Homo sapiens: one gene and its partner. Changing the gene in region 1 together with any one later gene gives a genetic interaction. Each region holds a gene or a part of one and is shown on either strand. Other genes may lie near its edges.

Region 1 (6,978 bases):
GTGGGAGCTAAACATTGATTACTCAAGGACATAAAGATGGCAGCAATAGATACCTGGAACTACTAGAAGGGGGAGTCGGGGAGCAAGGATTTAAAAACTATTGGGTACTATGCTCACTACCTGGGTGATGGGATCACTTGTACCCAAATCCTTAGCATCACACAATATACCCAGGTAACAAACCTGCACCTGTACCCCTGAATCTAAAATAAAAGTTGAATGAATAAGTAAATATGCTATTTTTGATGAAGATATGTTTTAGATTAAGATATTTTTACTTGGAACGCTTTAGTGTTAGATCCAAGTTTGCCACCCTTCTGGTTTCTTGGTTAATATTTTCAATTAATGCTCAAGATAAACACCCCTCCTTAGTTTAAATGAGCATTTGCCAGTGAGAAAAGTAGGAAGACATTTTGGCATTCGGGTGTTTGCTGGAATTAGTTATGTCTGAAACCACAACTTTGGGTCTCCTAGGAAGTATAAGTACTCAGTACCATTGTACACCATAAGTAGGTGGTGATGGACTTTGAAATTGGAAATACGTGGATCTGTGTTTAGCCAATGGAAACTTTAGGTGCAAGAACCACCAAGAAATGGACCACCAAAGTATTCCTTCCTTTCACGTTTTAGCTTTCTTAATTCTATTTCTGCTTATCACTCATGTTTATTTTGCTTTTATGGTTTTTGGTATTGTTTCACAAGCATTGTAACAGCAATTATGCAATTTCTTTTTCGTTTTTTGAGTGGGAAGGTCTTGCTGTGTGGCCAGGGCTGCAGTGCAGTGGTGCGATCATGGCTCACTGCAGCCTTGACCTCCTGGGCTAAAGCAATCCTCCCAGTACATGCGTGGGTCACCACATCTGGCTAATTTTTAAAATTTTTTTGTAGAGACGGCGGTCTCACTGTGTTGCCCAGGCTGGTCTTGAACTCCTGGGCCCAAGGAAGCCTCCAGCCTGGGCCTCCTAGAGTGATGGGATTACAGATGTTAGCCACCAGTTAAACAGGAAAATTTACTTATAATCCCACTACTCTAGAAACATATTTTTAAACTGAGTTTCTCAAGGACACAGTCCAAAGGAAAGGCTAACAGACCTTTGAATCAAGGGCAGAAGGCCTCTGGAGAAGGGAAACCATACAGAAACTACAGTGGAACAAATGTCATTTCTGAAACATAATTTACGAATACCAACAAGTTGGTATTCTCACAGTGGCACAGTGGCACTGAAAGAACATTTGCACCATTTGGAAAGCACTGAGGCTATTTAGTTTTTCAGAACAGCTGTCTCACTGAACTTTCCCCGGGCTCAACTGTCTACTGCCCATTTCCCTTTATGTCTCCTAAAGCCCCAGCATATGAGGATTTGGCACCTAGAACAAGGTTGAGTGTGACTGACACAGGAAATGGCCCGTGGCTGGACTGGCGCCTGCATGCAGCTGAATGGGGACACACAGCCAGGACTCAGCAAGGAAGCAGCTGTCACTCAAAGTGCTCAGCTCAATGTCAGCAGCTTGCTTGTTTCCTTATTCTTAGTGTCTTAACTGCACTTGGAAGGTAACACTAATGGTGGGACATAGTGTCACTCTGACTTAACCTTGTAGTTTGGGTAGCTCTGCAGGAAGAGGGAGAAATGGGAAGTAAATTAACATTCATTTAATATATCCCCCACTGTACTGAACACCATATATATATATGTAGACAGAGAGAGAGAGAGAGAGAGAGAGAGAGAGAGAGAGATCTATCTATTCTGCAATGGAGAGTGATTAAGATCACTGCCTGGGTTTAAGCCATGTTAGCTGTGTGGCCATGGGCAAGTCACTTAACTTCTCCATGTCTCATGTTTTTTTCTGTAACAATAACAATATTACCTATGTTAAGAGTTACTATGAGGATTAAATTAATTATGTGTAAAGCCCTTAGATCAGTGCTTGGAACACAGTAAGTGCTATACGTGTGTTTGCTGTTATACCCTTAGTAGTTAACTTCAACAAAGTCCTGTTCATCCTTTTATGACCGAGGAAACGGACACCCATGGAGATTAAGTCAATTACCGGACATGGCAGAGCCTGAAACCAAACTCAGATTTACCTGACTGCAATATTTTCTTCCCATAACATGACCGGGCCTGCTCAATGCTATCAAATTCCCTCTGCTGCTTGCCAGCGTAGGGTTCAGTTTATCAACCCTTCTTTGTACTGTCAAGAGTGAAATCCTATCTGACTGAGGCTCTTTTATCCCCATTTCTGATCAACCCTGGAGAAGGGCCAATGGTCAACATTTGGGGAGTCAGTGAAAGGAGAAACTTCCCTTTTCCATTCCCCCCTGTAAGCCTGATTGCCCTTTTGATATCGCCTATGTATCCCTATCAGAAGGCAGTGAATAACATAACTAAATAAATCATCTGATGGACAGTACCCTTAGAGCCTGGTGGATTTGGGGGAGCAGTCGGCCTCCGAGGGCAGCGCTGCCCAATAGGAATATAATGGGAGCCATCTGTGTAACTTTAAACTTTTTAATAGCTACACTAAGAATTAAAAAACAAAAGTGAAATTAACTTTAATATTTTACCTAATATATCAAAAATATTATCATTTCAATCTGGAATCAATATAAACACTATTGAGCTACTTTTTTGTATTGTGTTGAGTTCATGATTTACTTTAAACATACAGCCCTTGAAGTATATACAATGTTACTACAACAGCTCCTGGACACTTGCATATGTGTGTATTTTGCTTTTTTGTATTGTGTTGAATCCATTATGAATTTTAAGCACACGGCCCTAGAAATATATACAATGCTACTAAAGCAGCCCCTAGCCAGACACTTGGACATGTTTCCTTGATGGGCCTTCTTTATTGAGTTACAGACTTGATGTGTCTAAAATTGTACCGTCTCCCTTTTCTTCCTCCTTAGACAGATACTCTGATGGAAAAAAAAAATGGCTGAAAGAGTAAAGTCGCTTTTCCTCCGAATTTTCCCCATTAGTGCAGCTTGTCTGGACAGCTGCGATTTCTTGTTGGGTCACAGGGCATTTTTGACAATCTGCACGCTCTGCACTTCTCCCTCTGTGAGGTCAGGAGTGATGGGGGGGCACTTCAGGTTCTAGAAGGACTCAGGCCTCCTCTTGGACCCTGACAAAGTCCTTTCCCGTGCCTGGTTTCCACAGGGACGGTGTTGCCTGCACAGACGACAGCACCCCCGGCGGGGGAGAGCGGCCCCAGCGGAGACTCGGCAGGGCTCAGGTTTCCTGGACCGGATGACTGACCTGAGCCCGGGGCCCGGGCGGCGCTGGCCGGGCACAGGATGCGCGGCCCGGAGAGCGCATCCCGGCCATCCGCCCGCGCTCGGCCCCGCAGCGCAGCTGCTGCAGATCCGCGGGGGCCGCCACCTCCTCCGGGGGCTGGCAGCGACAGGACTCTCCCCGCCCCGGCCCGGGGCCCTCCCTTGCAGGGGCTGCGGGGAGGAGTCGCCCACCTGTCATCTGAGACGCCCCACGTGGGTCGGCCAGGGAGGGGGTGGAAAGGAGGGAGAAAAGGCAGAGGCGTCAAGGGAGGCCGGAGGGAGAGTGGGGTGGACAGAGGAGCGGAGGGACGAGAGGGAAGCGCACGATAGCTGCGCGGAGAGAGAGCGAAGAGCAGGCGGAGGAACAAAGGCGACCCAAGACACCCAGAGAGGGACAGGTAAGGAGGGGCAGGTGAGCAGGAAGGAGGAGAGAACCGGGCTAGGGAGACTGCGGAAAGGAGAAGTGGCGGGCGTGAGGAAACTGCTGTGGATAAGGGACGAGTAAGATGGAAAGAATGGCGGAAGACGAACGACCGCAGAGTGAGGGTCCTTCCAAGAGCGACCAGGGGGGAGGAACTGGGGCTGTTGCGCCCTTAAGGTTGCTAAGGCGACGGTTCTGGCCAGAGCGAGGCGCATTGACGTCAGTAGCCGAACGCTGATTGGCTGCGGCCAGGCCGTTTCCGGTGGAGCTGTCGCCTAGCCGCTATCGCAGAGTGGAGCGGGGCTGGGAGCAAAGCGCTGAGGGAGCTCGGTACGCCGCCGCCTCGCACCCGCAGCCTCGCGCCCGCCGCCGCCCGTCCCCAGGTGAGTGGGGTCGGCCGGGGGCTCAGGCGAGGTGAGCTTCGTCGCTTCGCAGCCGGTTTGCGGGAGCTGGACCGATCCAAGATGGCGTCACGGGGAGCGACCTGCAGGGGGACGGCCGCACCCCCTGCCCCTCCCCGGCCCGGCGGGCGCCTCCCCGCAGGCCTCACGCCCCCGGCTCCGAGTCTGCATCCTCAAGGCCGTCTGGGCGTTGGCTTTGGTGCGGGGCTCCCCAGCCGCCCCGCTCGCGCTCGCTGCCCCCACCCCACGGCTCCTGGGGCCCTGGGCCCTCCGCGGCCCTCCCCGGCCGCCTTCGCCCCCGCGCGCCGCGGCCTCTTCGCTCACCCTCCCCCATTTCCTGAAGGACAACGGCTCTATTTTACTGGGGTCCGCCATCGTCTCGTCCGCCGGTCCTGGCTCTTCTTGTAAGCCGGTAGTTTTCCTCTCCACTTTTGACGACTCGTCATTGCTAGCAGTAGCCTTTCCTCTTCATAGCGGAGTGATCTTTCCCCCAACACGACGGTCTTAGTCGGGCTCCTGAATTTCCTCTTGTCCCCTTTCACCTCTCTCCCTTTCCCAATTTTGCCCCCCTGAGGCCTCCTCGCCACCACTGTGGCCTTCCGACTGGCGTAGCTTGAAGTCTCGGCTTCCCTTCATTTTGTGGTCATGACCGTGGCCTACGTGAAGTGAAGGGCATTTTCCTGCCCTTCTTCTAGAAAATACACGGTACCTATTAACCTCTTCAGCTCAGAGCCTGTGGTGACGACCGTCCTACTCCTTGAGAGATTCCCAAGAGATCCGTCTTTTTAGCAGAGCGAGGAAAGCAAACACTTACTCAAGATGACCCTAGGGGAGCCGTAACTTGGCTGGTCTAAGGGGGTGCGGTCTGAATCAGGAACAGTTTCTCAAAGTGTTTTTATTTATTTCCCAGAATGTAATCCTTTCGAAACAATTTTGTCACAACTGAATTTTCAAAAGAATGAATCTGAGTGTTTTGTTTTACATAGAGACAATGCAGCGAAAGTTTTAAAGCAGTTAAATAATTGTGTGTGGGGAGGGAAGGCTAGGTTGTTGGGCTTTACAAATAAGTACACATAGAGAATCCGGGTAACTCGATTAAAAATATTAAGACTGTGAAGTCTGGTTATTCAGGGATTTACATGGTGACTGCATTAATTTTGGTACATTTCTGTTCGTATACTGTCCTATTACCGGTGGCTATCTTTTTGGTTTTCGTAATACATTAGTTGTTTCAAACAAAAACACAGTTTCACTCCTTAGGCCCAGTTCTCTCATCTCTACCAGCCAAAGACCTGATCTTAGAATGATTGATCATTTGAATGTTCTTAAAATATGACAATGCTTTGAAGCATGAAAGATCTGATTTATGATTGTTCTTGGTGGCCTTTAAGTATTATTTGAAATGCAGACAATTCTACTGAAGTGGATCTTCAGTTCATATGATTGCCTGACCTGGAGAAGTGGCTTGTATAAATCTATCCTAAAGTAAATGCGCGTTTTTGTTTTTGTTTTGCCTGTTTAAAGTAGCAGCATGATTATTTTTCCATGGCTTCTAATTTATGTGCTTGTCTTGGAGCCACGAACTTTCTAATGGTCTGTTAATTAGTCTACTTGTTGTTGACCTTTATGGTGAAAGTTGTCAAAACAAAATGAGTAACAGTGTAGCACTTTAGAATAGCTCTTTACTCTGTTAATTCTTTCTATAAGTTCTTTTAAATTTACAGTTTCATCTCAATAGTTTACAATGCATTATAATTGGAAAAGTCTGATTAGTATTGAATTCAGTTGCTGAGTGGAGGGGACCACACTCTTGTCTTCTACTCTTAAGTGCTTAGTAATTAGGAGTTGGAAGGAAAACAGTATATGACCCTGTTGTTAAATTAGTAAACTTTTAATTCTAGGGTAAGGTTAGCTGCTCATCATTATCTCTGTTTGCTTTACTTTACATAAAGGTACCATAATTCGAATCCTCTAAAATCCATTAAATGCAATTTATCCATTAAATGTAATCCATTAAATGCAATTTATCTATTGAATCTTCATGCAAGTTTGAAACTTAAGTGTTTTAACATTCTCCTGTCAAGATGAAGAAAATATTTTGACAATTTTCTGTCCAAATGTTTTACAGTTTATGTGGTAAGAATTCTCCCCTCCCCCAACTAAGGATTTTCCTTCTTTTACCACTAGTGTATTATCATTTAGGGGTGGAATCTGGCAAACGAGTCTGGAATAAAGGTTGCTTTTAAAACTCATCTAATTTTCTTGTGTGTTTTTAAAAATTTTGATTATGCTAGTAGTTGGCTAATCAGATCCTCACTCCAGTGGTTTGCTCTGTGACGTTAGGATACTCCCATGGGATAGAAGTTACGTATAGGGAATGTCAGATATTCTTCATTGTGCTGACTTGCTTTCGCTTACAGTTGACTTTTGTGCCCTGGTAATTCTGTATCCTGTTTACCGTTTACCTACTTCCCACGTCATCATGATTTCTTTTGAGGGAGAACTGAATGAAATTCCCTTAAGGGCCTGACTTCAGCACCCGTCTCTGCAGAGGTTAGTGGCTCATACTTCCTCCCAGGAGCTGAGGTTATCGACTCTCACTGTTGCCTACAGAGCACAGATCCTGAACTAAATGAAACATTTACTTGGAATAATGCTAATTCTGTACATATTTTATTCCCTAGTCCCCACTTCCCTGTTTAAAAACAAAATCTACTTAGAAAAAAATCCCTGTGAATCAGTTGTCTAATGAATTTAGCAAGTTAAATGCCAGATTGACATTTTGCTTTATAGTTTATACAAGCATGTGTGTGTTTTTTTCTCGCAGAGAACCATGGAGTCTGGCAGTACCGCCGCCAGTGAGGAGGCACGCA
Region 2 (2,978 bases), on another chromosome or scaffold:
CACTCAGCTCAGGCAGTCCTTCCACCTGGGGCATCTCCCCCACCTCCCGACGTGGTACTCTGCACTGTGCCCCCCCCAGGCCCCGCCTCCATGCCCCTGTCCCCCTGCCCCCTAACAAGGTGGAGCACACCAAGGCCCCACCTCCATGCCCCCATTTCTCCTGCCCCACGAGGTAGAGCACACCAAGGCCCCACCTCCATGCCCCCATTTCCCCTGCCCCCCAAGGTGGAGCACGCCAAGGCCCCGCCTCCATGCCCCCCATTCCCCCGTCCCCCCGGCAAGGTGGAGCACCCTGAGGCCCTGCCTCCATGCACCCTGTCCCTCAGTCCCCCCAAGGTGCAGCACCCCAAGGCCCCACCTCCATGCCCCCTGTCCCCGCCACCCCCCGAGGTGGAGCACCCCTAGCTGTAACTGGGAGGCTTACCAGCCTGTCTTCCCCCCAACCCTGCTAGACTGTGAGCCTCTTGGGGCAGGGACATGGCTACACAGGGCCAGCAGAGGTGACCCCAAAACTTGGCTGGTGGATTGAAAAAATACAGCAAACTTCACCCAACATGCATTGGATTTACTTGAGTTCCAAATGTGTTTGAGGAAAGGAGAGAATAACCATCCGGGACAGCTGTTGCCCTTTCTCCACACAGGAGCTGGGGGAGCCAGGTCTGCGGCCCCCTTAGCCATCTGTCGGTCTTGGGGGCAGGGCTGCCTGAGAAGGGGCTTTTGGGGTTTCCACATCTCCCCATCTTGTCCACTGACCTCCTCCAGCACCTGCCCCAGTCGCTCCTTGCGGGAACCTCCTGGGGCCCCAGGACGGAGACCACTCCCAGGCTCTCCACACCCTGGAGCCAGCCCTAGGCCCACCTTCCTCCCCGCTGGGGCCATGCCCTCCATGCACCCCGGCCCAGGGTGGGGCCAGCCCCCAACACAGACACTGCACCCAGGAACACATGAGCATCTGGTCCACGCCCTCCGGCGGGCCCTGGTCCAGGCCTCTCACATCCAGCCCCAGGTGCCCAGGTGGCACCCTCCCTCCCTGGGCTGATGGATGGTGACTTCCTCCACCCAAGCCACCACCTGCCCCCTTCTCTGCGCCTCGGAGCCGGAAATGTGGACACCTGGTTTGGGCAGCACAGGGACCAACCAGCCGGACACAGGCCCTGAGAAGCTGCCAAATGAATCCCAGCCCATCCTGCAGAGGACAGTGCTGGTGACCTGCCTCGCCTTCCAATGTCACAGTCCCAAGAACCGTCAACACGGCCACCCTGGCCAAGGCAGGGCTCCCACCTCGGTATCAGGACAGGACAGGGCAGGCTGGCCCCTGGGTCGGGGTGCAAGGACCCAGAGCGGCCACCAGAGGGCAGCGCAAGAGCACGCGGGAGCCCCATCCTGGGCACCAGCCCAGGATCCAGACAGCAGCCTCTGGGGCCCCCAGGCCACCAGCCCGCCCCGCCTGACGCTGTAGCCCACTCCACACACACGGCCACGGCTCCTGTTTTATTGCCTTCGGGTGTCCGGAGCACCTGACTGCCCCGGGGTCTAATAATTTAAGGTGCCGAGAACAGGTCAGGACAAGGGGTCGCAAAAGAGGGGCTGGGGGCCCAGTGGTTACAAAATATACCCCCACCCCACAACAAACAGGCTAGAGGAGACCAGCCTGGCTGGTGTGGGAGGGGGCGGGCAGAGGGCGCCCGACCCACCTCAGAGAGACAGAGCCACGGCCAGCGCCGCCAGAGGGAGTGGCGGAGACAGGAGAAAGGGCCCAGAGGCCACCCAGGGCCCGAGGGGCTCCTCGCTCCTCGGACACAAGTGCACGGAGGTGTCGGGGAGGAAAAGGCGATGTGGGGCCAGCCAAGGCCTGGAGCCCCTGCTGGGCTGGGCAGAGCAGGGCTGGGCAGGGCCTCCAGGTCCAGCCAAGGTCCTGACCTACATGACGACCAGGCCCAGCCAAGGTCCTGAGCTACATAACGCAGCACCGGGTCTTGTGCGTGTGTGGGTCTTTGAACCGCAGCCTCTGTTTGGGCCGGTATTTCTCCAGGTAGGTGAGCTGCTTGCTGTTGATGGCTCCGCGGCGCTTCCTGGGAAGAGGGGAACAGGAACAGAGATCATCCAAGGACCTGGCTCGGCCATCTCACCTGCCCCAGGGAGCTGGAATCTGAGAGTGCAGTGGGCTGGAGTAAGGCCTTGAGGCTGGCCAAGCCCCTCCTGTCCCAGGGCCTTGGCACGGCTGCTCCCAGAGTCACAGTCACCCTTTCCTGGCCCCCTGCAGCTCACCCCTGCTTGCCTTCCAAACTCACCAAAGCGCCACCTCCTCCAGGCTGACTCTGGGCTCCCTACGGCCCCCAGGCTTCCCTAGCTCGGTAGGACCCACCCCAAGGCCATGAGCAGACAACAAGGGTGGTGCCTGGGCACCTCCACCATCCAGGAAGGGGGGCCTGTGAGTAAGGGAGGGGCTGAGCCCAGAATTCCAGCCCAGCTGCGCGACCTTCCCTTACAACAGGGACCTGGGCTGCATGCTCACCCTGTCCCCACCATCCCCACCACCTGGTCCTTACAGCGGGGACCTGGGCTATGCGCTCACCCTGTCCCCGCCACCTGGTCCTTACAGCGGGGACGTGGGCTGTGCGCTTACCCTGTCCCCGCCACCGGGTCCTTACAGCGGGGACCTGGACTGTGTGCTCACCCTGTCCCCGCCACCGGGTCCTTACAGCGGGGACCCGGACTGTGTGCTCACCCTGTCCCCACCATCCCCACCACCTGGTCCTTACAGCGGGGACCTGGGCTATGCGCTCACCCTGTCCCCGCCACCTGGTCCTTACAGCGGGGACCCGGACTGTGTGCTCACCCTGTCCCCGCCACCTGGTCCTTACAGCGGAAACCTGGGCTGTACGCTCACCCTGTCCCCGCCACCTGGTCCTTACAGCGGGGACCCGGACTGTGCGCTCACCCTGTCCCCGCCACCTGGTCCTTACAGCGGGGACCCA

What was found. A genetic interaction does not mean that the proteins touch.
Region 2: changes in PRKAR1A (region 1) and PTP4A3 together harm fitness less than expected from each alone (positive genetic interaction), as found in Homo sapiens cells (one study listed by BioGRID).

Annotation. Positions count from the first base shown.
Region 1 is NC_000017.11:68,508,462-68,515,439, forward strand, and holds the start of PRKAR1A (cAMP-dependent protein kinase type I-alpha regulatory subunit), read left to right. Parts: upstream 1-3,968; 5' UTR 3,969-4,087; exon of another isoform or gene 4,088-4,517; intron 4,518-6,525; exon of another isoform or gene 6,526-6,658; intron 6,659-6,932; 5' UTR 6,933-6,938; coding exon 6,939-6,978. UniProt on the Homo sapiens protein: Regulatory subunit of the cAMP-dependent protein kinases involved in cAMP signaling in cells.
Region 2 is NC_000008.11:141,430,021-141,432,998, reverse strand, and holds the end of PTP4A3 (protein tyrosine phosphatase type IVA 3), read right to left. Parts: intron 2,073-2,978; coding exon 1,955-2,072; 3' UTR 545-1,954; downstream 1-544. UniProt on the Homo sapiens protein: Protein tyrosine phosphatase which stimulates progression from G1 into S phase during mitosis. Enhances cell proliferation, cell motility and invasive activity, and promotes cancer metastasis.